Homo sapiens: one gene and its partners. The protein of the gene in region 1 purifies or fractionates together with the protein of each later gene. This does not show direct contact. Each region holds a gene or a part of one and is shown in the gene's direction. Other genes may lie near its edges. The genes, in order: SHC2, COQ8B, PSMA8, VWA8, PTCD1, RSAD1 and GATB.

What was found.
Region 2: the proteins of SHC2 (region 1) and COQ8B purify together in Homo sapiens (affinity purification with mass spectrometry; one large-scale study listed by BioGRID and IntAct). This does not show direct contact.
Region 3: the proteins of SHC2 (region 1) and PSMA8 purify together in Homo sapiens (affinity purification with mass spectrometry; one large-scale study listed by BioGRID and IntAct). This does not show direct contact.
Region 4: the proteins of SHC2 (region 1) and VWA8 purify together in Homo sapiens (affinity purification with mass spectrometry; one large-scale study listed by BioGRID and IntAct). This does not show direct contact.
Region 5: the proteins of SHC2 (region 1) and PTCD1 purify together in Homo sapiens (affinity purification with mass spectrometry; one large-scale study listed by BioGRID and IntAct). This does not show direct contact.
Region 6: the proteins of SHC2 (region 1) and RSAD1 purify together in Homo sapiens (affinity purification with mass spectrometry; one large-scale study listed by BioGRID and IntAct). This does not show direct contact.
Region 7: the proteins of SHC2 (region 1) and GATB purify together in Homo sapiens (affinity purification with mass spectrometry; one large-scale study listed by BioGRID and IntAct). This does not show direct contact.

The regions. Positions count from the first base shown.
Region 1 is NC_000019.10:437,034-440,533, reverse strand, and holds part of SHC2 (SHC-transforming protein 2), read left to right. Parts: intron 1-1,503; coding exon 1,504-1,564; intron 1,565-1,696; coding exon 1,697-1,816; intron 1,817-3,500. UniProt on the Homo sapiens protein: Signaling adapter that couples activated growth factor receptors to signaling pathway in neurons. Involved in the signal transduction pathways of neurotrophin-activated Trk receptors in cortical neurons.
Region 2 is NC_000019.10:40,692,887-40,696,386, reverse strand, and holds part of COQ8B (atypical kinase COQ8B, mitochondrial), read left to right. Parts: intron 1-332; coding exon 333-398; intron 399-3,349; coding exon 3,350-3,436; intron 3,437-3,500.
Region 3 is NC_000018.10:26,132,412-26,136,668, forward strand, and holds the start of PSMA8 (proteasome subunit alpha-type 8), read left to right. Parts: upstream 1-1,457; 5' UTR 1,458-1,554; coding exon 1,555-1,656; intron 1,657-4,257. UniProt on the Homo sapiens protein: Component of the spermatoproteasome, a proteasome specifically found in testis that promotes acetylation-dependent degradation of histones, thereby participating actively to the exchange of histones during spermatogenesis.
Region 4 is NC_000013.11:41,951,110-41,954,609, reverse strand, and holds part of VWA8 (von Willebrand factor A domain-containing protein 8 isoform a precursor), read left to right. Parts: intron 1-3,500. UniProt on the Homo sapiens protein: Exhibits ATPase activity in vitro.
Region 5 is NC_000007.14:99,421,799-99,425,298, reverse strand, and holds part of PTCD1 (pentatricopeptide repeat-containing protein 1, mitochondrial), read left to right. Parts: coding exon 1-504; intron 505-1,341; coding exon 1,342-1,524; intron 1,525-3,500. Other genes in the region: ATP5MF-PTCD1 (ATP5J2-PTCD1 fusion protein), read left to right, coding at 1-504, 1,342-1,524. UniProt on the Homo sapiens protein: Mitochondrial protein implicated in negative regulation of leucine tRNA levels, as well as negative regulation of mitochondria-encoded proteins and COX activity. Also affects the 3'-processing of mitochondrial tRNAs.
Region 6 is NC_000017.11:50,481,860-50,484,166, forward strand, and holds part of RSAD1 (radical S-adenosyl methionine domain-containing protein 1, mitochondrial precursor), read left to right. Parts: intron 1-231; coding exon 232-597; intron 598-783; coding exon 784-847; intron 848-1,480; coding exon 1,481-1,628; intron 1,629-1,846; coding exon 1,847-1,901; intron 1,902-2,307.
Region 7 is NC_000004.12:151,705,508-151,709,007, reverse strand, and holds part of GATB (glutamyl-tRNA(Gln) amidotransferase subunit B, mitochondrial isoform 1 precursor), read left to right. Parts: intron 1-906; coding exon 907-1,020; intron 1,021-3,500. UniProt on the Homo sapiens protein: Allows the formation of correctly charged Gln-tRNA(Gln) through the transamidation of misacylated Glu-tRNA(Gln) in the mitochondria. The reaction takes place in the presence of glutamine and ATP through an activated gamma-phospho-Glu-tRNA(Gln).

The DNA.
Region 1 (3,500 bases):
TCCCTGCTCTGTTTTCCACACGGTGACCTCAGGATGCTATGCGGTGTCTGGAAAGCAATCACAGGGGCTGTGGATATGGCCAGGGCTTAAGCAGGGAAGAGAGCGACACCCTTTTTTTCTGTGAAAACTGGTTGATTCCATTCGTATAGACTTAAAAAAACCATGTGAGACAGTTTACACGTGCGTATGTGAGATATAATGTACAGTTTGAGACTTTAGGCTCTTCACAGAGTCACACGATCACCACTGTCTAGTTCCGAACATTCTCATTACCCCATCAAAACACCCCGTCCCCATCACAGCCACTCCCCGTCCCCTCCCCAGCCCCGGCACCCACGCATCCCCTCCCTGTCTCTGTGGATCGGCCTGTCCTGGACATTTCATAGCAATGGGATCACACGCTGCGTGGCCTCGTGTGTCTGGCGTCTCTCACTGAGCATGGCGTTCCCGAGGTGTGTCCGCGCTGTGGCCTGGGTCAGAGCCTTGCTCCTTTTTTTTTTTTTTTTTTGAGATGGAGTCTCACTCTGTTGCCCAGGCTGGAGTGCAGTGACACCGTGTCGGCTCACTGCAACCTCTGTCTCCTGGGTTCAAGCATTTCTCTTGCCTCAGCCTCCCCAGTAGCTGGGACTACAGGCGCCCACCACCACACCCAGCTAGTTTTTATGTTTTTAGTAGAGACGGGGTTTCTCCATGTTGGTCAGACCGGTCTCGAACCCCTGACCTCAGGTGATCCGCCCGTCTCAGCCTCCCCAAGTGTTGGGATGACAGGTGGGGGCCGCCGCGCCTGCATGCATTTGTTTGTGTCAGGCCCACAGTGCTAGGATGACAGGCAGGAGCCGCTGCATCTGGCCAATTTTTAACCTTTTGAGGAGCCCCCAGGCTGTTTTCCACAGTGGCCGTGCTGTGAAAATTCCCACATGCCCTGGGTGGGGGATCTGGTTTCTCCACGTGACGCCGACATTTCCGGGGCCCCTTCAGGACCCTGTAGACTTCTAACCTCTCCTGGGGACCAGTGGTCTGAGGCGCTCTTGTTTGGGGTCAGCTCCTGCCACCACTCAGGCTGCAGACAGGATCTCGACACGGACCCCGCGTCAGGCTCAGGGCCTCCTGCTCGCTGCTCCAACCCCCACATCTGATGCCGAGCCTTCCTTGTGGGCCGAGGCCAGGGACACACTGGTCCCTGGGAAAGAGGGTGGTAGAGGGGCCAGAGCTGGGGGCCGGGCCTCTGCCGGATGCAAGGACGCACGTGGAGTGGGCTGGTGCCCAAGCTGCACCTGTCCTGTGGGGCACTCCTCCCCCAGGTTCCCCAGCCCCCTCCCTGCCCACTTTAGGCCCCCTGATCCTCTCCCACCCCTCCCTCTCTGCCTTCCTCTCCCCTCTCTCTCGCCCTTCTCTGAGCTCCTGCCCCCTCCCCAGACCCCCGCCCTCTCTGACCCCTTCCTCCCCAGCTCCCTCCATGGCCACCCCCACCACACTCTCTAAGCCCCCTCCTCCCAACCCCAGGGAAGCCATCAACCGGCTCCATGAGGCCGTGCCTGGCGTCCGGGGATCCTGGAAGAAAAAGGTGAGTGAGGCTTGTGGTCTCTCGTGGGGCTGGTGGGGCAGTCGGGGGCTGTGGGGACGCTGCGGCCATCCTGGGAGCCCCTCGACAGCCCCCACCCACAGCCGCCCTCGCTGTGCTCCGCCCCCAACTCAGGCCCCCAACAAGGCCCTGGCGTCCGTCCTGGGCAAGAGCAACCTTCGCTTTGCCGGCATGAGCATCTCCATCCACATCTCCACTGATGGCCTCAGCCTCTCCGTGCCTGCCACGCGCCAGGTGGGTCTGCCCTCTTCGCCTGGCGTCCCCAGACCCCCAGAGGGGCCAGGAGTCCTAGGAGGCAAAGCCAGGTGGGGTGCTGGGGGCGGGCAGCAGGTGGCGTTTATCCAGAAAGACGAGCCGAGGCCCCGCTGAGCAGGAGCTGGGGGTGCAGCCACTGCCCTCACGGGGCTCAGCTCAGGGGCTCCCACCTGGGCGAGCCGTCCTGATACAGGGGCGCTCCTGGCATGGAGTGGGTGGGGGCAGGGACGCTGCTCAGCACCCTGCAGGGGCCAGGACGCCCCACCCCAGAGAGTGGTCCGTCCCAACATCCACAGTGCCTGGGGAGGGGCGGGGATAAACCCTGGCTATCAGTCCTCAAGTGGAAACAAACAACAAAAGTATAATTGCAGACCAGGCTCGGGCTTGGTTGCTCACGCCTGTAACCCCAGCACTGTGAGGCCGGGCTCAGTGGCTCACGCCTGTAACCCCAGCACTTTGGGAGGCTGAGGGGTGGGCAGATCACTTGAGGTCAGGAGTTCGAGACCAGCCTGGCCAACATGGCTGACTCTACAAAAAATACAAAGATTAGCCGGGTGTGGTGGTGGGCGCCTGTAATCCCAGCTACTTGGGAGGCTGAGGCAGGAGAATCGCTTGAACCTGGGAGTGGAGGTTGCAGTGAGCCAAGATTGCACTACTGCACTCCAGCCTGGGCAACAGAGTGAGACTCTGTCTCAAAAAACCAAAAAACAAAAAACTATAATTGCAGAAATAGAGGAAATAACAGATTTTAGGAAGCATTGTGAGGCCAGGTGAGGGGTGTCCTGAGCATGTGCTGGGCTCTGGGTGCTAGAAGAGACTTCCTGGAGGGCTCTGGGAGGTGGTGAGGAGGGGAATCTCAGGTGTGGCTGAAAGAGGAGGCATCGCCTTGTCGGAGAAGTTAGCATGGATCATCGTGAGGAGTTTGGGGTGAGACAGCATCTCTGAGCTGGTGTGGTGGCAGCAGGTGGCGGTGAGGGGCAGCTGGGGCTCCAGGGAGGAGGCTAGAGAAGGATGGAGCTGGCGGGGGGGTGACTGAGGGCCATTTCCACGCAATTTCCATCTCTGCCCCCACCCTGCGAGGCATGGACCCCTGACCACTATATGGACAGGATACTGAGGCTCCAAGCAGACCCTCCTGGCTGGGCCGGGGTTGGCAAGGGGAGAGCCTCGAGGGTCCCTATGGGGGCTGAGAAGTGGATGTTCTGTAGGGAGGACTCAGGACGTGGCTGGTATCGGGGGCTTACTGGGGCCTAGAGGGATTTGAGTGACGGGAAGCAAATGAAGCAGGACCATGCAAATGAGCATGCAAACAAGCACGCAGACGAGCACACAAACAAGCACACAGATGAGCATGCAAACAAGCACGCAGATGAGCATGCAGATGAGCACACAGACGAGCACGCAGATGAGCACACAGACGAGCACGCAGACGAGCACGCAAACGAGCACGCAGATGAGCTCGCAAACGAGCACGCAGATGACCACGCAAACGAGCAAGTAGATGAGCATGCAAACGAGCATGCAGATCAGTAGGCAAACAAGCATACAAATGAGCATGCAGATAAGCATGCAAATGCACTCACAGGTGCCCTTGCACGTGGACAAGGGAGTCAGGAGTGTGGGGCCGTCCCTCCCGTGGCTGCTTCGGGTGTGTGTGTGTGTG
Region 2 (3,500 bases), about 40 Mb from region 1:
CCGGATGGGGAGTATTTTATATTTTAGGCTGGGTGGCAGGATTTGTGAGTATTCATTTTACTTTTCTATATCTTTTATTATTCTCTGGATTTTTTTTCTGGGTCTAAAATTTGTTATTGCATAAACAATTAGAACTAAAAGAAAAAAAAGCCTTCAGCTAGGGGGTCGGTTGGAAACGGGAGATGAGGCCAGGAGCCCAGTGAGGCAGCCAGGCAGGGACTCTGGCAGGAGCAGGCAGGGTCATGGGGAGGGAGACAGATCCTGGCTGCCCCAATAGACAGTGAGGGTGTGAATGGGATCCCAGCATTCCTTTCACCATTCCTTGCTTCCAGGTGACCCTGCTGGACTTTGGTGCAAGCCGGGAGTTTGGGACAGAGTTCACAGACCATTACATCGAGGTGAGTCTCCCCCAGACCCCAGGGCCTCTGAAAGGCTGAGGCTCAAGCCATATACTGAGGCAGAGGAGTAAGAAGGCGAAATGCAGTTTCTGGAATTAAGAAATAATAAATAATAGTAATACTCGTAGCAACTAGCACACACCAAGCACTTAATATGTCAGGCTCCATCTTTAGTGCTTACGTATAGGAACCGATATAAACCACACAGCAACACAATGCGAAAAGGACCGTTTTTAGGCCCGTTTTAGGCCAGATGAAGTAACTGGGTCCTGGAGGGGTTAAGTCACGTGCCCAAGATCACAGCAGACTTGGGATTCAAATTCAGGTGGTCCAGGTCCAGAGCCCAAGCTTCCAACCACTGCCCAGCTCCCTCCTAAGAGAAAGGCCCACAGTGACCATCTTGTCACCTCTCCAGACCCCATGCTGTCCAGGGCCCTGGTGTCCAGCCCAGGTGTGTGTCCCTGGGGGCAACTCTGTCTACAGGAGGTGTTTCCTCACGTACTTGGCTCGTCTCTCCCACCCACTGGGGTCAGTTTGTCTTAGAGGCTGCAGAGAATACCATTTCATTCGTTGTTGAGATTGGACATTTGCCCTGGGTCCTCTAATCATGTAGCCATCAATCTAAACGTTTTCTTTTCCTTTTTTTTCTTTTCTTTTTTTTTTTTTTAATTGAGACAGAGTCTTGCTCTGTCGCCCAGGCTGGAGTGCAGTGGCTCGATCTTGGCTCACCACAACCTCCACCTCCTGGGTTCAAGCGATTCTCCTGCCTCAGCTTCTCGAGTAGCTGGGATTACAGGCATGTGCCACCACGCCCGGCTAATTTTTGTATTTTTAGTAGAGATGGGGTTTCACCATGTTGCCCAGGCTGGTCTCGAACTGCTGACCTCAGGTGATCCTCCTGCCTTGGCCTCCCAAAGTGCTGGGATTACAGGCATGAGCCCTCCTGCCCAGCCAATCTAAATGTTTTCTGACCCCTCCTCTGTGCCCAGCTCTATTCTAGGCAAAGCTGGAGACACAGCAGTGACCTGGGCCCAGCCTAGGCCCCTCCTCACAGAACTCATAGTCAGTGAGGCGACAGTGAGGACCTAGCATGGACAGGGCTGGGATGGGGGAAGCGCAGGGCACTGTGAGCCCAGAGGAGGAGCCTGAGCCAGCCTGGGGAGCCAAGGAGGGCTTCCCGGAGGAGGGAGTGTCAGCATTGAGACCTGAGGGATGAGGGGGGCCAACTGGGAAAAGGCTCGGAGGGTATTTCAGATAGACAACATGTGCCAAGACGAGGCAGTGATAAGGGACAGTCCCATTAGAGCAGCATTTCTCAGACTTGGATGTGCATGTGAAGCCTGGTGATCCTGTGCAAGTGCAGATTCTGGTCTGGAGGTGGGTGTAAGATGCTATGTTCTGACACGCACCCATGTGAGGCCAGGGCTACCCGTATGGGGACCACACTGGTAGTAGTAAGGCCCTAGAGCACCCAAAGGAAGCTCCCATTCTGAGTGGGAGGGCAGGTCGGGGGGCAGCACAGTGACGAGGCTGCAGCAAATCACTGCGGATTTTAGAGGCTGCGCTCTACAGCTCGTACTGTATCCAGGTGCCCTGCGGAGCCGTGGAAAAGATTTGAGCAGGGAAGGGATGCAGTCAGAATTTGAAAACTCCCTCTGAATAAGAAGTGGTCTCTAAGCCTGGGGGTGGGAGCTCAGGGCAGCTGTGGAGAGGGGCAGAGGGGTGGCTGGGAGATGCCCAGCTGGCAGTCCATGGGAGCAGACGGGCTAGAAGTTGGGGACAGAGGTGTCTAGGGGTCTGGTCTGGGGACTGGTGGGGCCACCTCTGAGACAGGAACAGGAAGAGGAGGTGATAACCCCTTACACACAGGCCCCTTGGGGCCCTCTCTGCCGGCCACTGAGGCACAAAGCTGAGACCCTTCTTCTCCCCACTGACACCCTCCCCTCCCACCCAGGCCTGCAGCCTTTGCCACTTTATAAAAGCCCTGGCTTCTGAGGACCACAGGCCTGACAGATGGCCAGACATGCTCGGGCAGGGGGAGCAGAGAGGGAATGGAATTAATCCCGAATCCCCCTCCTCACAAAAAAGGGCAACCCAGTAGTGAGTGGTGTGACCCGGTTCCACTCCCTACTCCGGGTCTGCTTCCCCTTCTGTGAAATAGGGACCCCCGTGCCCACCTCTTAATAATGGTAGATTATAGTATTTACGGTGCTTCCTGCATGAGACACAGCGCCAGGCAGGCCACAGGCATCACCTTCTTTATCCTCCCAACAGCCCCATGAGGAAGGCACTTTTGGCATCCCCACTTCACAGATGAGAAAGTGGAGGCCCAACAGGCCGGCAGGTGGCAGAGCTGGGACGGAACCCTAGCCAGCTGGCCCCAGCTGGGCATCTCTCCATGCCCACAACTCCTGCCCTGTGTGTGTGAGCTCATGGCTGGAGAGCTGCTCTGCTCCACACGCTCATTTGCTAAAGCAAGGTTCACCCAGGGCCTCCTCAGCACCAGACCCTGTGCCCCGTGCGACTAAACCCAACTGGGATCCTTGCTCTCACGGGGCTCAAAGTCCAGTGTGGGAGACAGAGAGATGGCCCCTGGCAACTTTGGATGCAGTTCTGGGTCACGCTCATACCCGTCCAGTTGAGTGTTTGGACTCACCAGCAGCCCTGACACTTGTTTCTTGCACTGTTTCACTGTGGCAGTTCCCGGGCAGGCCCCACATTGCCCTCTAGGTGGGCAGGATCCCTAACCACCTCCACTCCCAGGCTCTGGAAGAGTCTTTAAGGGAGTCACAGACAGGCAAAGTTGGGAGCAGGAAGCTTCCAGGTGAGGGAGGGCCCAGGCAGATGAGAATGGAGGTGGGTACATGGGAGGCCCAGGCTTCCAGCTCCTCTTCTCCAGAGCCCCCTTGAGCCCCGGCCTTTGTCCCTCTAACTCCCACCCGTCTCCCCAGGTGGTGAAGGCTGCAGCTGATGGAGACAGAGACTGTGTCCTGCAGAAGTCCAGGGACCTCAAATTCCTCACAGGCTTTGAAACCAAGGTGGGGAGACACTGGGGGAGAAAGGGGCTGGTGTCTGTTGGTGGGGTGCAGTGGGGGGCTGCTT
Region 3 (4,257 bases), on another chromosome or scaffold:
CACACCTGTAATCGCAGTACTTTCGGATGCCAAGGCAGGAGGATTGCTTGAGACCAGGAGTTTGAGACCAGCCTGGGCAACATAGGGAAACCAAGTCCCTACGTTAAAAAAAAAAGTATTAATAATTAAATAAATTGTTTAAGTCAATTAAAATTCTGATTTAAGTATTTGGAATTCAGGGAATCAAATTTTTCCTCTTTTGAGGAAATTATTCTTTTTTTCTTTTTTTTGGTTAAAGTTGATTTCACCAACTTTAAGATCCTCCCCAGTGGAAAACTGCATATATTAAACAACACATGGAAAGCAATAATAGCTAAACTTACCTGGCTATTACTGCCCACCAGGCACCATTTTATGTAATTATGCCCATAAACACATATTAAGCTCAGAATACTCTGCTGCAGATTTTTTAATATTCCCATTTTATTGATAAGGAGAAAGCGACAGAGTTGTTTCATAGTTAGTAATGTAGCAAGTTGTAAAGAGTTTCTGCTATAGCTAAATTTCCAGACATCTTTTAAGTCTCATACTTTGGGCTTTTACAAAATTTCTCCAATTAAAAGAATATTATCTGGGCCGGGCGCGGTGGCTCACGCCTGTAATCCCAGCACTTTGGGAGGCCGAGGCAGGCGGATCACGAGGTCAGGAGATCAAGACCATCCTGGCTAACACGGTGAAACCCAGTCTCTACTAAAAATATAAAAAATTAGCCGGGCGTGGTGGCGGGCGCCTGTAGTCCCAGCTGCTCCGGAGGCTGAGGCAGGAGAATGGCGTGAACCCGGGAGGTGGAGCTTGCAGTGAGCCGAGATTGCACCACTGCACTCCAGCCTGGGCGACAGAGCGAGACTCCGTCTCAAAAAACAAAAAACAAAACAAAACAAAAAAAAGAACATTATCTTAATTCTCATCATTAGCTTAGTTTGATGGACTATTTGCTTTATTTAACGGACCATTTGCTCATCTGCTCTATTTTGCTCACAAGGCAGAAAATATCAGAAGCAACAATATTTTGAAGTTTGCTTTCTTTCCTTCGGTTCAAATAACAAGAGTTAACCTGAGAGAGAGAAAGAAAAAGTAGGAAATTTAGAATTTGAAACCAAAGGGAAGGGACTGATATTTAACTTACCACAGTTTCTCCAACATGTATGCGATAACAAAAATATCTGATATTTGAAGACCTCATTTTTAAGCCCTAATCTTTGATATTATTTTTATAACTCGAGTGCCGTGACACCATCCCTGGGGCAACACGGTAGTGGGGAAATGGAGATATGCGCTATGCGTCAGACATGAAGGGTAAGGGAAGAATGCCGTCAACTCACAGGCACTGCTTGGGTGACAAAGGCTGGCAAGCGCGAGGACATCCGCAGGCAGCCAAAGGAGCAAGGACTTCCGTGAAGCAGCCGAAGCGCGGGCGCGGGGACTTCCGGGAGGCAGCTTGAGGCGCGTGTGGAAGCGCTTCCGGGCGGTAGCACGCTGTGTTGGCGGCGGCTCCCCGCTTGCCTCAGCTGCAGCAGCGGGAAGCTCGGTGGCAAGCCCTTGTAGTCCTGTGCGATGGCGTCTCGATATGACAGGGCGATCACTGTCTTCTCCCCAGACGGACACCTTTTTCAAGTTGAATATGCCCAGGAAGCGGTGAAGAAAGGATCCACCGCGGTGAGGAAGCAACTATTACCGGACTATTCCCCGCTCTGACCTGTCAGGCCATCGTTACCCTGCTGCCCCAGCCCACCTTTCCATCCTAGGAGCTCAAGAGAGGAGATTCCCACACTTGTGAAAATTACTTTGTTCTTTTTATTTAGGGAGACAGACTTCTAGATTTGGGCCGGAAGTGGGCAGAGTAAAAGTTAGTAGATTTCCCCTATCTCTGCTGTTCAACTGCCTCTGTTTCATGGTAGCTACAGACGCAAAACTAGGGTGTGTGTGTGGGTGTGTGTGTGTGTGTGTGTGTGTCTCTGTGTGTGTGTGTGTGTGTGTAGGGACGTTAATGATGTGATTGACAATAGGGAAAGCTTCTAATCTGTAACAGCCTACCTATTGAACGCTCGTGGTCCAGTTCCTTGGTAGTTCAGAGACCCCTGGAAAAGTTAACAGTTGCTTCATGTTGGGAACTGTTTTTTAATAACAGTTACAATAAAAAATAAAAGTTGGCCACACCTGCTCCCCAAATACGGACTAAATCAATATAAAATTAAACTTTTGTTGATGAAGAAATGATTAAAAACACAGTTCAAACACACGCGTTAAAAATATCCCAAAATTGCTGGGCGCAGTGGCTCACACCTGTAATCCCAGCACTTTGGAAGGCCCAGGAGGGCGGATCACCTGAGGTCGGGAGTTTGAGACCAGCCTGACCAACATGGAGAAACTCCGTCTCTACTAAAAATACAAAATTAGCCAGGCGTGGTGGCGCATGCCTGTAATCCCAGCTACTCGGGAGGCTGAGGCGGGAGAATCGCTTGAACCTGGGAGGCAGAGGTTGCGGTGAGCCGAGATCGTGCCATTGCACTCCAGCCTGGGCAACAAAAGCGAAACTCCGTCTCGGGAAAAAAAAAAAAAATCCCAAAATTGTCCCAATATTTCCCAGCCTTGTAGAGGCTCAAAAGTCCAAGAACTTCCACTTTTTTGGCCACTTAAAAAATAATGCTGGAAGTTCCTTGAGAGATTACACCCTACCTTAGATTTATGTATCCACATTACTGAAAAACTTAAAAAATACTCAGGGTAGGAGTAATACTGCTGCCAAGTTTTAACTACGTTCAATAATTTTAGTGATTTATAAAAATTAAAGAGGACAAAAGTGCCCTAGTGACACAAGATCTATTACCCCAAATCTTCTAAGGCCTAGCCTATGAATTCAAAGGATCGGATATTTTTATTCTCTCAATTTCATGAGCATGTTTGTTGTGTACTTTGGAAATTGAGACAGTAGCTATGAGAATACACAGTACGTTTCTAAGTCTAGCAGTGTCTATATTTTCTGACTTTCTTTGTTAAAGAAGGAAATAATTCACTTTCATTATAAATCTAACAGATGTAAGTGGTAAAAAAAAAACACTAGAAGAAGAATCGTTTTAAAAGTATTTTTCTATTTAATTGGGCCCACTAGTTTTGCTTCTGTTTTGCAAGTAATTTTTTTAGAATTATAAATTTAAGGAAAGCCTGATGTAGCTTAAACCAAAAGGGTACCATTTTGATAAAAACAAAAAGTTATATAATCCCCAGCATAGCATGTAGCATATGGTTAGAAACTAATGGCCAAGTTTTAGAGCCTAAAATAAAGGGAGTAATAGGAGAAGACTAGGGTGTAATAAGAAACCACATTGGCTCATTTAACATGTTTTAAGAGTGCTGTAGAACTGATTGATGGTTCCTTTGTAATAAGCGGTAAAAGGGTAAGGATATAAAAATACCTATAGTGGGCATTTTTAAAGATACATTGGAAGAATGAGACACTTTTGTCTCAGAATTCTGAAATTATAATTTGCATGTTTGCATGGAGTTATTCATTGTGTTTCCTTGAGGGTGCTGTGACCTTTTACATAGGGTAAAGTTTTTTAATGGCACTTGATTATTAAAATATGTCACAAAATATTCTGTCTAGAAGTGAAAATTGATATTATGAGTTACAAATAAGCCAAGGTTGACCAGTTTTGACCAGTATGTAGATGTGATACTATTTAGTAATATAAAAATTATATGGGCCACAATTAAAGGCTTTGTGTTCTACTTCCTTGTTGATGATTATCTTATAGCATGAAAGGAGACAAGAGGCTTGTTTTCTTTTTGCTTCAGTTCCCTTTTCTGTAAATGCAAATTTGTTTAAATAACATTTTGGAGAAGTAATACCTTTCTTCTTAGGGAAAAGAAATGAATCCTTCACAATATTCCCATGAAAACGATAAGATTTATTATCATTCCTCATTTTGTCCTTTCTGTGACCCCAAACTGTTATTAGCTCTGTATTTCCTACTTTATCAAATCTCAGCTCCACAATGTAGCCATCAAAGTCTTCCATAATCCTATCCACCCTCTTAATTTAGGAGGCAGCTTCTTGGTTTCACTAATATGTGTTTCTGCCTACAGAAAGGGGAGAGAGGAAAGGGGAAAACACCTTTCTTTCTGCTGCTCTGCATCTTATTTATCCTTTAACAATCTCTGCACACTTGTCCTCTATAATGAAGCCTTCTCTGATCCACTCCAGTCATCTTGGATCTTTGTCTTTTCTGAATTTATAATCTGTACCACAGAATATTG
Region 4 (3,500 bases), on another chromosome or scaffold:
ATTACAGAAGCATAAATCAGATCCTGTGCTAGCAGAAAGACTAATGGAGTGATCAATTTGTGCTAGAGGAAAAGTTAGGGAAGGTTCAATGGGGAGATGAAGATATTTCAGTAGTAGTTGTGTAGAGGGCAAGTGGTGTGAGAGAGATGTGGAAGGTCTTCTAGGCTGAGGAGATAAAGTGTTAGTCACTGAGATAGGAATACAAGAGGTGGAGCTGGTTAGAGGTGGTTAGGCGCACACAATGGACAATATAGAATTCTGTTTCTGTGTGTTTGTTGAGTTGTCTCTGGAATATCTAGGTAAAGTCTCCAGTAGGCTACTGGCAGGTATGAAACTCAGGAGAGAGATCTGAGCCAAAATAGACATTTAAAGAATTAGTTGTATATGGTGTTTGAAGAGTACCCTTAACTGAAAAAAAAAAAAAGGTTGTATAGAGGTCAGAGTTGGGACATTGGTATGGATTAAATGACTGAGGAAAGTGTAGTGTAGTAACAGAAGATGGCCAAGAACATCAATGTTTGAGGCAGAGATGGCAGATGCCTGGTCCATATGAATGTCATAACTTTTCCCTTTTGTCTATTGCAGATGTGGCTCATTGATCACCACCCTGTTTCCCAATGAGTCCAATTTCCGTTGTGATTTATTTTTTGGATTTTTTAAGAAGCCTGTTGCTTGATTTCCAAATGTTTGGGGATTTTCCAGTTACCTTTTTGTTACTGATTTCCAGTTTAATTCCACTGTGGTAAGAAAACATAATCTTTATGACTTCCATCCTTTAATTTTCTTTTTTAATTTTTTTTGACACAGAGTTTCACTCTTGTTGCCCAGGCTGGAGTGCAATGGCGCTATCTCGGCTCACTGCAACCTCCGCCTCCCTGGTTCAAGCAATTCTCCTGCTTCAGTCTCCCAAGTAGCTAGGATTACAGGCATGTGCCAGCCACCACGCTCAGCTAATTTTGTATTTTTAGTAGAGATGGGGTTTCACTATGTTGGTCTGGCTGGTCTCAAACTCCTGGCCTCAGGTGATCCACCCACCTCGGCCTCCCAAAGTGCTGGGATTATAGGCACCAGCCATTGTGCCTGGTCTCATCTTTAAATTCCTTGAGACTTGCTTTATGGTCCAGCCTATAATTTATTTTGGTGAATGTTCCATGTGCATTTAAAAAGGATATGCATTCTGATCATGAGGAACCAATTACAATACTAAAAAGTGCTTTATAAAATACAATATTCAGTTGATAGGTTGAGAAAATAAAAACATACTTGCAGTAATACTTAAATAAATAATAAATAGAATATGCATTCTGTTGTTGGGTGTAGTGTTCCATAAATGTCATTTAGGCCAAGTGATTAATAATGTTTTCCAATCTTCTCTTTCTTTACGTCTATACTTGGTCTTTGCCAGAAGGCTGAGAAAAAATTATCCTTATCCTGTATCCTTCTTTATTTTTTCCTACTTCTTCCATTATTTACCAAGAGAGCTACTTAAAGCTATTAATATCTAGATGTGATTGTGCATTTTTCTATTTCCACTTTTAGTTCTGTCCGTTTTTGCTTCATGTTTATTTCCCAGCTCCCTCCCTGCCAGGTCACCATTATGGGTTTGCTGTGTTACCCAGAAGGAGGCTTCCTAACACAGTGACCCTCTCTGCTTGCTCTCTCCCCTTGCCCCTTCAGGCCTAGGGGCGGTAATGACTTTCTGTTATTGCTAGTCCTAGGATACTGCACCATCTTTTTTGGTTTCCGTAAACTCTGCTATACCTTTGTAAATAGTTCCCTTTTTGTACTCTCCTCAGTTACTCAGTTTGAATGTACTGTCTTTCAGAAATGTGAGGTATGAATTTTACTTTTTTTAAAAAAAAAATGGACAGCCAATTGTCAAGTTACCATGAATTTGTATAGTCTGCCCTTTTTCTAGATTATTTATTAGAAGGATGATGTCGGTCAGCTCTAACACTCAGGGAATGTTTGTAATGAGAACCTGTGCCTGAAAACGTTTTTCTTATGTTCAGATTAATTACTCAGTATCATTTTGTCAGGAGGCCAAATAATTACAGTCTTTTCAGGAAGTGAAATAACATTTGTAAAGACATCCTATTTGAAAATACTGTAACTATAATTCTTGAAACTACTCTGTAATAAAAGCCAGTAGATAATATCACTTATATTTGTAAGCAAGCTTATCTTTTAAAAGAAAAGCTACTGTAGAAAGTAGCTAATTTATAGGTTCTTTCCTGCATTAAGGAAAATAGGGCGAGATGACCAGTCAACCAATACCTGGCAGTAACTAAGATTGTACTATATGAGGCACTGCTGACCACCTGTTTTTTGAGGGTGTTAGAACTTAAACGACCAAATGATCTCAAACATGCATTAGAGATCATCTGGAGGGCTCATTGTAACACCGATTGCTGGACCTTAGGGTTTCTAATTCAGTAGGTCTGAGGTGGGGCCTGAAGATTTATATGACTTACAAGTTCCCAGGTGACGTTGATGCTTTGAGAATCTCTGTGATAGATTGCGTGAAGACAAAGAGTTAATTGGACAGGGGAGGAAAAGGGAGCGGTGCACGGGTTATGGAGGAGCTTTGCAGGCTTTTGAATTTTGGTCCTCATCATCTTTTGCCTTGCTTTTTTCTGGCTGCCAGTTTTGGACCTAGCAGGGATTTAGCTTTGTGTGTAGTCCTTATCTTCCTCTCTCAATTTACCACATACCTGTAATAAATTTCTTTATCTGTTAAAAACTCTGTTATGGATTTACAAATTTTCTCATTTGTAAAATTTCTGTCTCATAGGATTATTTTGAGAATGCAAAAAATACTTAGAAGGTAGTAAGCATTCAACAAATGTTGGCTATTGTTATTAGTACCATGATTTAAGGCCTTAGTGTTCAAGGTATCTTGCTAGCTTTAAACTGGCAGTGCTGAAAGATGAGTTTTGCACGACTACTTTTTTGGAGTGTCTCTGAGCCCTTTCCAAATGAAATTCTAGATGCAAATGGTATCACCATGCCTATTTTGCTGTTAGAGAGAGCACAGCGGGGAGAGATTATTCAGTTTAGTCCTCGGCTTTAGAAGATCACTCGGAAATTAAGGTTACATTAAAAAATAGAACTGTATAGAACTTACTGAAAACTTTTGCCTGCTTTTGCTTATTTCATGTAGGAATTCTTGGCTTTTATTTTTTATTTATTTGAGACGGAGTGTCGCACCGTTGCCCAGGCTGGAGTGCAGTGGCGTAATCTTGGCTTGCTGCAACCTCCGCCTCCTGGCTTTAAGCGATTCTCCTGCCTCAGCCTCCCAAGTAGCTGGGATTACAGGTACGTACCACCACGCCCAGCTAATTTTTGTATTTTTAGTAGAGACGGGGTTTTACCATGTTGGTCAGGCTGGTCTCTAACTCCTGACCTCAAGTGATCCGCCTGCCTTGGCCTCCCAAAGTGCTAGGATTACAGGCGTGAGCCACTGCACCTGGCCAGTTCTTGGCATTTATGCCACTGGG
Region 5 (3,500 bases), on another chromosome or scaffold:
CCAGAGGTGGATACTAAGGCAGAGCCCAGCCACACAGCAGCCCTCACCGCAGTGGCCCTGAAGCCACCTCCCGTGGAGCTGGAAGTCAACCTCCTGACCCCCGGGGCCGTTCCCCCTACAGTGGTCTCCTTTGGAACGGTGACCACCCCAGCTGACCGGCTGGCCTTGATAGGGGGCCTGGAGGGCTTCCTGAGCAAGATGGCAGAGCACAGGCAGCAGCCCGACATCAGGACCCTCACGCTACTGGCCGAGGTGGTGGAGTCCGGGAGTCCTGCAGAGTCCTTGCTGCTGGCCCTCCTGGATGAGCACCAGGTAGAGGCCGACCTGACATTCTTTAACACGCTGGTGAGAAAGAAGAGCAAGCTGGGAGACCTGGAGGGGGCCAAGGCGCTGTTGCCGGTCCTGGCAAAGAGGGGCCTCGTCCCCAACCTGCAGACATTCTGCAACCTGGCCATCGGGTGCCACAGGCCGAAGGACGGTCTACAGCTTCTCACAGACATGAAGGTGAGTGGACTCGGGCCTGGGCAGGACACCCATGGTGCTCAGGAGCACTCTGCAGCTCAGGAGGAAAGTTTGAGGGGTCTGCAGACCCCCCACCTGGAGAGGATGAACTGTGCATGGGGCAAAGAGAGTGGGGTCAATGACCTTCTGGTCTTTGGTCCCATTTTGGGGGAAGCAGACCCCAGTGAGTGCTTCAGGGCTGGGCGTAGAGACACACGGATGTTCCCATCCGGAAGAAGGTGGCCGTGGGTTGACACAGGGCTGGGCACAGGCCTCGGCCCCAACACTCTAGAGGTATGGCAGGGATTCTCAGAATTCCTGAGGGGCCGTGGGCAGTTTTCAAAGCCCCCGAGGTCTGTGCCTCCCACCTAACCCCCATTGGAAGTGCTGCGTGGATTTCATCCGACCACAGCAGAGGCTGCGTCCTGGGTTGTCGGTGTCCCCAGGTCCATCATCCTCTGGCTGTTTTCCTGGACCCTACCGGGCTCACCCAGCCAAGGCTTGCACTTTTCTAGGCCAACCACCACCTGGTGACCGTGCGTCACAGGAAGCCCACCCCAGGGAGCAAGGAGGTGGTGTCTCCCACATCATTTTCTGCCTGAGTCAGTCGGTGTCTGAGAGCAGCACGAGCGTCCTTTTCCGCAGCTTCTTTAGGGCTGAGCAGAGGGGCTGGGCTTGGCTTTCCTGCTGGAGAGGGATATTCAGCACATTGTTGCTGCCAAGTTTGCCTTGCTGGCCCTGGCCGCTGGTCCCGGGAGCCAGCTTGATTGACAGAGGGTGGGAGCTGCTGGGTCCCAATGGCTGCCATCATCTTGATTCTACGATGTCCCTGTGTTCTAGAAGTCCCAGGTGACCCCCAACACTCACATCTACAGTGCCCTCATCAACGCGGCCATCAGGAAGCTGAACTACACCTATCTCATCAGCATCTTGAAGGACATGAAGCAGAACAGGGTCCCGGTGAACGAAGTGGTCATCCGCCAGCTGGAGTTTGCAGCCCAGTACCCTCCCACCTTTGACCGGGTGTGTGCCCCAAGCTCAAAAGCTCATCAGCTCCTTCACCATTGCTACCCCCTCCCCCCACCACCCAACCCCGGTTCTGGCCCTTGGGATTGTGTTGCCATGCTTGAAACTGTCCAGCAGCTTCCCTTAGGAGCAGTACCCAAGTCTGTAGACCACAGCCTGCGAGTCCCTGTCTGCGTGGCTCATCTCATGTCTCAGCCTTGCGTTTGCTTTCTCTGTCTGTCCCAGTGGCCTTCTGTCAGTTCGCAGAGGCCACCAACCTCTTGCCTGCTTCGGGATTGGTGTTCCCGCTGCCTCAGGTGGCACCCACTTTTCCTGGAGGTCTCTGCTTAAGTGGCCCTCAGACATGCCCAGCTGGCTGCCGCTCTGACCTGGGATGAAAGTCTCCCCTCCCCCTTCCCACTCTGTTCCTTTATGCCGTGTCCTACAGTCTTGGATCATGTGCTCATGGGCAGCCCTGGCCTTCCCTGTATCAGGCTTCTGGAGGCAGAGGCTGTCTGCTGTGCTCATCTGGGTCCCCAGCACCTGCACGTTGCTGGGTACTCCAAACAGGTTGTCGCTTGCTCAGGGACTGGGCAGGCAGTGAAGTGGTGTCATTGTCTGGGGTGAATACCTGAGATTTGTTGTGAGCCAAGATCGCGCCACTGCACTCCAGCCTGGGCGATAGATGGAGACTTGGTCTCAAAAAAAAAAAAAAGAGGTTAAGAGCTGAAGTTTAATAGGCGAAAGAAAGAAGAGCTCTCGCCCGGTGTGGTGGTGAAAAAAAAAAAAAGAGAAGAGCTCTCTCCTTGCAGAGAGAGGTGCCAGAGAAGTGGGTTGCCACTTCCATAGTGTAATGCAGAGGTTTTGTAGATGAGCTTGGGGAGGTGGTGTCTGATTTACAGAGGACGCAAAAGATTAGTTGGACCAGGTGTGCCATTTACATAGCATGTATAAAAGCTGGTGCCCCACCCTAACCTTTTATTATGCAGACAGGTGGCCATCGCCATGTTGCCTGGTTCTTTACTGTACACATGGCAACAAAGAAGGGAAGATGGGGCCCCCACGTTGAACATATCTGGCTCCCAGGTAGCCCTTTTCTGTTGGCACAGCCGCCAGCATTTACCCCTGCAAGCTTCCAGTTTGCTTATCTATGTCTGCAGCTCGATTTTTCAGGCTGCTCTTTGTTAGAAAAGAAATTATTTGGGGGCTGCTTTTTATTAAAAGGGAAATTTCGCCAAGGACTCTGTTGCCCTTATTATCTGCCTAAATAATTTCTTTCAACCTCCTGTATCAGCAGGAGCAGGGCAGAGTCATGGAATCTGCTTTGTCACGGCCACAGCCTCTCCCTGCTGTTCTGAGGCTATCAGGCTCTGGGGTTTGGCTTTTGGGTCCATCGAATCACACTCTGTGCTGAGCATCTCCGGAGCATCGAGAGCCACTATGGCTTGAAGCACAGCCCGGATGGGGCGGAAACAAGTAAATGGGCAGGGACACACACAGCTAGAGGGTGCGGGGTCAGGAACGCCGTGCAGGTGTCACGCCTGAATGCCATTTTGAGGGCTTCCTACAAATAGGTGGGACAGCAATGGAAATTGTGTCTGGCTGAAGGCATAGCTGGGCATTTTTGAACTGTGTCTGTGCTTTGAACTGTTGGTTGCAAGCCTTTTCTCATTGATTCCAGGGTTTTTTATATATTCTGGGTACTGGTTTTTTGTTGATCACATGTTGTGCATATCTTCCTAGTGGATTGTCTCTTCCCTCTGGCGTAGGGCTCACTAGGGGTTCAACTCGACAGTCACAAGACTATCATAGACCTAAAGCATATCATATTTAAGTCACAGACAGATGTCCCTGACTTAAAGATGATTCTACACAGGATTTTTCAACTTTGCAATGGTTTTATCAGGATGTAACTCTGTAAGGATCGACTTTGTGCGGGGTTAGTTTCTACTGAATGTATATCACTTTTGCATAATTATAAAGTCAGGACCCTC
Region 6 (2,307 bases), on another chromosome or scaffold:
AACTAATATTGGAGGGTTACAAAGATTAAATTAGACACTACATAAAGGTGCTTGGCACATAGCGACCCTTCTGTGAATGGCAGCTCTTGGTGCCAGCTTGACCTTCCCCCTCCTGCCTTCCAGCTGCCTGCCACGTGCTGCGTTCTCCCTGTATCTGTGTCTACAATGGGGAGGAGGGTTCTTGTCTCTCTCTGAGCTGCTGGTATGCTTACACCCACCCTCTTTTCCCAGTCCCTAGATGACACTGAGCTCCGGCTGTTGGGACGGACGCACTCGGCCTGCGATGCTCTGCGGACGCTGGCAGAGGCCCGGCGCCTCTTTCCCGGGCGCGTGTCTGTAGACTTGATGCTGGGGCTGCCGGCACAGCAGGTGGGGCCGTGGCTTGGGCAGCTGCAGGAACTGCTGCACCACTGTGATGACCACCTCTCCCTCTACCAGCTGTCCCTGGAGCGGGGCACCGCACTCTTCGCCCAGGTGCAGCGGGGTGCCCTTCCAGCCCCTGACCCGGAGCTCGCAGCTGAGATGTACCAGAGGGGCCGGGCTGTCCTTCGGGAGGCTGGCTTCCACCAGTATGAGGTCTCCAACTTTGCCCGGAATGTAAGTTCTGGGGCTGATGGCTGGAGGTGGAGGATGGGCAGACTGCAGTGTGACCAGGGCGTTGTGACCTTCTGAAGAGAAGGATCCTGGCCGAGATGGTGGGACATTCTAACCTGGGGCCCCTTACCTGAGTCTAAAAATGAGGCCTGCCCTCTTCACTCTGCACTATTTCCTCCCTCCCCGCAGGGGGCGCTCAGTACCCACAATTGGACTTACTGGCAGTGTGGTCAGTACCTTGGCGTTGGGCCTGGTGAGTCCCGTGAACTACAGAAAGGGTGACTCAGGAGAGGAATGTCGTGGCTGTGTGAACTTGGGCCACATTAACCTCTCCAAGCCTCTATTTTCTCATATGTAAAATGTGGCAAAAAATAATACCTCCCTATAGAACTGTTGAGCATGAATTATAAGGGGCTTAATGTTGCACCTTGCACTAGGGTTCTCAGCCTTTAGTGTGTATGAGAATCTCCTGGAGGGCTTGTTAAAACCCAAGCTGCTGGGCCCCACCCTCAGAATTCCCAATTGGACAGGGCTAGAGGAGAGCCCAAGAATTTATATGTCTTGGCATTTTGGGATAGATGATTAAAAAAAAAAGAAAAAGAAAAAAGGGCCTGGTGTCATGTGCCTCTAATCTGAGCTACTTGGGAAGCTGAGGTGGAAAGATCGTTTGACCCCAGGCGTCCAAGACCAGCCTGGGCAGTATAGTGAGACACCACCTCAAAAAAAAAAAAAAAAAAAAGAAAGAAAGAAAGAAAGAAAAGAAAAGAAAAATAATTTATATTTCCAGTATGTTAGAGGCAGTTGCTCCAGGGACCACATGATTTAAATCTGGTAAACACATAGTATTAACAGCCATTAATGTGGGGATGGTTGTTGATGTTGTCAGGGGCCCATGGACGATTTATGCCCCAGGGGGCTGGAGGCCACACCCGGGAGGCTCGGATCCAGACACTGGAGCCTGACAACTGGATGAAGGAGGTGATGCTGTTTGGCCATGGCACCCGGAAGCGTGTCCCCCTGGGCAGGCTGGAGCTGTGAGCATCCAAGGGCACAGGGCTCTCCTCCAGGATCCCCACACCCCAAGACCATGTCTATTTGTATATCTTTTATTTCCTGTCTTGTCCTGGCCCCTGCCTTGCCACATACTGTATGGTCCCTGTTAGCCTCCTCTAAATGCATCCCAGTGTAGAATTTGGAGAATGGGAGGAGCACAGGCCTCCTCTCTAAGACTCCTTGGTGATTTTTCTTTGAGGCTGGAGGAAGTTTTGGCCCTGGGGCTACGCACCGATGTGGGGATCACTCACCAGGTAAGGAGTTAGGATTCTTGCACACCACTCCCTCCTAAAGTCTTGCAGAATCAATGCCCCCTCCCTGCCACCCCCCCCACACACATATACCTCCAATTTCTGTGAGATTGGCAGCTAGAAGTGGGGCCCAGGTCCAGCTGAGGCCTGATGGGCAGAAGCAGTGAGCAGTGGTGCATAGCTAAGAACCCTAGACCAGGGCTGCAGAGACCCAAGTTCCAGCCCTCATTTTACTGCAACCTTGGACACAAATCCTTTCACCTCTCTTAACCTCAATTTTCTGAGCTCTGTGAAGCAATAGATAGATAAAGGGTTTCCACTTGTTTTTAGGGAGCACTGAAACCTCTCATAGGAAGCACAGTAGATAATTATCAAGCAAATCCAGAGCTGCTCTGGATAAAGCAGAGCC
Region 7 (3,500 bases), on another chromosome or scaffold:
TTGTAAATGAAACGAGGAACAGAGAATCTGAGAGCTTTACTTTGTAGGGTGCCAAATGTGATTCTTTCTTACCTACATCTATTTGTCTTGGGATTTTTCTCTCTCTCTCTTCCTCAAGAGCCTTTTAGTCCTCCCCACACATTGCCTGCTTCTTTAGGGCTTGTTGCTCCTAATCTGAGGGGCCTCCAGGGTCAAAGAAGGTCCTCCCAGCATGGGGTCAGCACCTCTCTGAGTCCCACCACAGACTCCTGACTTCGTAACAGTGCTGTCTGTCTGCTGTAGCAAATCGTTAGAGCAGTCAGGAAGGATTCGGAGTCATGTTTGTGGAAGGAAGAGATTATTACAGTACCTGGAGGAAGGAGGAGGGGGGAAAGCCCAGATTTCAGTTCTTGCCCTTGAGCTGCAAATTCTCAAGGACTCTCCTCTAAATCTCCTGGAATCACTGTTAGAAATCCACATTCCAATGGAGAGCAGTGTAGGGTTATCAGATATATGAGGCCTTTCCTCCAACTCAGCTCTGACACTTTGAAAAAAAACTTCAGTATAAAACTGCAGAGTCAATCTCCATTTTAATAGTTTTGTTTTTCTTGTTTAGCACAAAAAAATTAGATCTCTCCAGCTGGCGAATCTAAAACTTCTCTTCCATATGTGCATAAGCACACACATCTGTATATGTTCACATGTACAGGCACACACTGTAGATGCCTCAGGACTGTAACCCCTCTCGAGTGGCCAGAAGTACCAGCCACGACCTACTTCAGAACCAACCGTGCCTTCTCTGAAGTTAGGCTGCTATAACTAAACAGCAGGTAGAGTTAGATGCTGCTTCCTTTGACACTCCCTGCCTTTAAAAGACTATGTCACCTCAAAGAATTTCTAAGGAGTTGTTTTCTTCTCTCCTTCCAGAGGGCCAGTTGAGAGTGGATGCCAATATATCCGTGCATCACCCTGGGGAGCCTTTGGGCGTTCGAACGGAAGTGAAGAATCTCAACAGCATCAGGTTCCTGGCCAAAGCCATAGGTGAATGCCAGCTGCCGCTCCTAGTGTCCTTCTTCCTATTGTTTCTCTCTTGCTGGGTAACAAACAACCCAGAAACTTAGTGGCTTACACAAGAACTACTTTCGTTTTCACTGGTCCGTTCTGTTGGTCCTGTGTCGGCTCACTCATGTGGCTGTGGGAAACCGGCAGGCCAGCTGAAGCAGAGGGTCCATGGTAGTCGCTCTCATACCTTGGGGCCTTGATGCTGATGTCTGCTGGGCTTCTCCATCCATGTGATCTTTCTTCATGCACTTGCCTAGCCTTGGCTTTCTTATGAGGCAGTGGGAGCATTTCGGGAGGATGAAGGCAGAAGTGAGTCCTAAGCTGTAGACCTCACACAGTGTCACTTCCAATGTGTTCTATTCAAAGTAGATTGAGGCCAGGCACAGTGCCTCATGCCTATAATCCCAGCACTTTGGGAAGCCAAGGTGGGTGGATTGCTTGAGGCCACGAGTTCAAGACCACCTGGGCAACATAGCAAGACCCCATCTCTATAAAAAATTAAAAATTTAGCCAGGCATGGTGGTGAGCACCTGTAGTCCCAGCTACTCAAGAGGCTGAGGTGGGAGGATCACTTGAGTCCAGGAGTTTGAGGTTGTAGTGAGCTGTGATCACGCCACTGCACTCTAGCCTGGGCGACAGAGCAAGACTCTGTCTCTAAGAAAAAAAAAGAAAATTACATTGAATTCAAAGCAGACTTGAGGGGAAATTAGACTCCACCTCTTTATCAGAGGATCCACAAAAGATCATGGCTGTGTTTTACCATTTACCACCTTCTTTCTGACCAGCTTGAGATTTACTAGGTCATGGTTGTTCATTTTAGATTGACCATGGCTTGACCTAAATGGTCATTATGTTTTCCTGCTTTTTATATTCTTTTTAACTGCTAGATTATGTGCCCATGCAGTGAAGTAGTAGTCTTTCTGGAGCACACACTGTGGGTATTTCTTTGATGATAAATGTATAATAACTAAAATAGTTTAGCAAGATAAATATCTGAGCAGTCCCGTAGATATAGGTAACTGTGAATTCAAGGGGAGGACCTCAGAGGACTAAAAAGATTTTTTAAAACCGAAGCTATCTAGAGAGGAAGAGGGAGGGATGGAGTTTGAAGTGCACCCCTTCAAGGGTGCACAGAGACCAAGACAACTGAATCTGTTGCCAAAGTTTTGCTGTAGCCAAAATGTTTAATAGAGCCCTGGTCTTGTCAAGAAAAGTATTAGAAACAGTACAGAAAAGATGATTCTAGTCTTGTATTAGACCTTATTGTCCTGAACCTGAAGTGAATCAACCACTCAATGAAGACAGTCTTCAGGAAAAAGGCATTAAAGTGGTCAAACGGATAGCTTATGGGAGCAGAGAGGGAAGGGATAGGCTCCTATATGAAGGCAGACTAAAGATGGTGAACTGTTCTGCATCCGGAAAGGGACATAGCCCATGTTCCCAAAGCCATGAAAGGTTTGAGTCAGGGAAAACCCTTATAAGCCAAGTTGGTGAGGAGGAAGCCTGGAACAAATGGAGGAAGTTCCACCTCCCCCTGTAGGTAGTGGGCTGGGACCCGTTATTTTAAGAGGTGGTGATGGTAACCTTAAAAAAGCAGCCCAATTTTAGGTAGAGTCATCCATGAGTTCTGAAGGAGACCCCTAACCTTCTCCTGTCCTATGAAGAACTCTTTGGAGGACCAGTCTGAGGGAGAAATCTCCCTGTGGTCTGACTCAGAGTGGAAGAGCCAAAGCTTTACTATGGGTTCAATTCTCCAAGCCTGTGATTTTTCACCACCTTTTTCTCCCTATGTCAGGCCATTTAGCCATCATCTCGTGTCAACCAAAGAGATCACTGGAGTTGGGGAGAGATGGGGAGCAAAAACTGACACGTTTTGCTGTTGCTGCCTCTTAGCAACTCAGATAAAAGGGTTTAGGTTTGGGCAAGGGAAGGTAGTACATGGTGGGAGGGAGAGTTAAGGTGGAGGCTCAAGATATTTTCATAAAGCAGTTTAGCAGGCTGGGCTTAGTGGCTCATGCCTGTAATCCCAGCACTTTGGGAGGCCAAGGCAGGAGGATTGTTTGAGACCAAGAGATTGAGACTAGGCTGGAAAACATAGTGAGACCCCCATCTCTCAAAAAAAGAAAAAAAAAGCAGCAACAGCTTAGCAATTGTGGTTGTGTTTTGATTCCCACAGCCTCCCTCATTTGATGCTGAGGCATGGGTCCTTGGATCTTAATCATTTGGGGTCGTGGGTCCCTCTGAAAAGATAATGTAAATGCTGGACCCTCTCTCCAAAACCTGCACATATGCACACAACCCACACTTTGTGTATAATTTTGGGGATACCAGAGCCTTTGAAGCCCATCCCAGACTCCCAGGGTAAGGGCCCTGGGTAGGCAGCAATCTCAGACCGAGATATTGGGCCCAGCCCCACTTCTGCCAAGTCATGTCATCTGCATGGGGTTGCTTAATCTCTC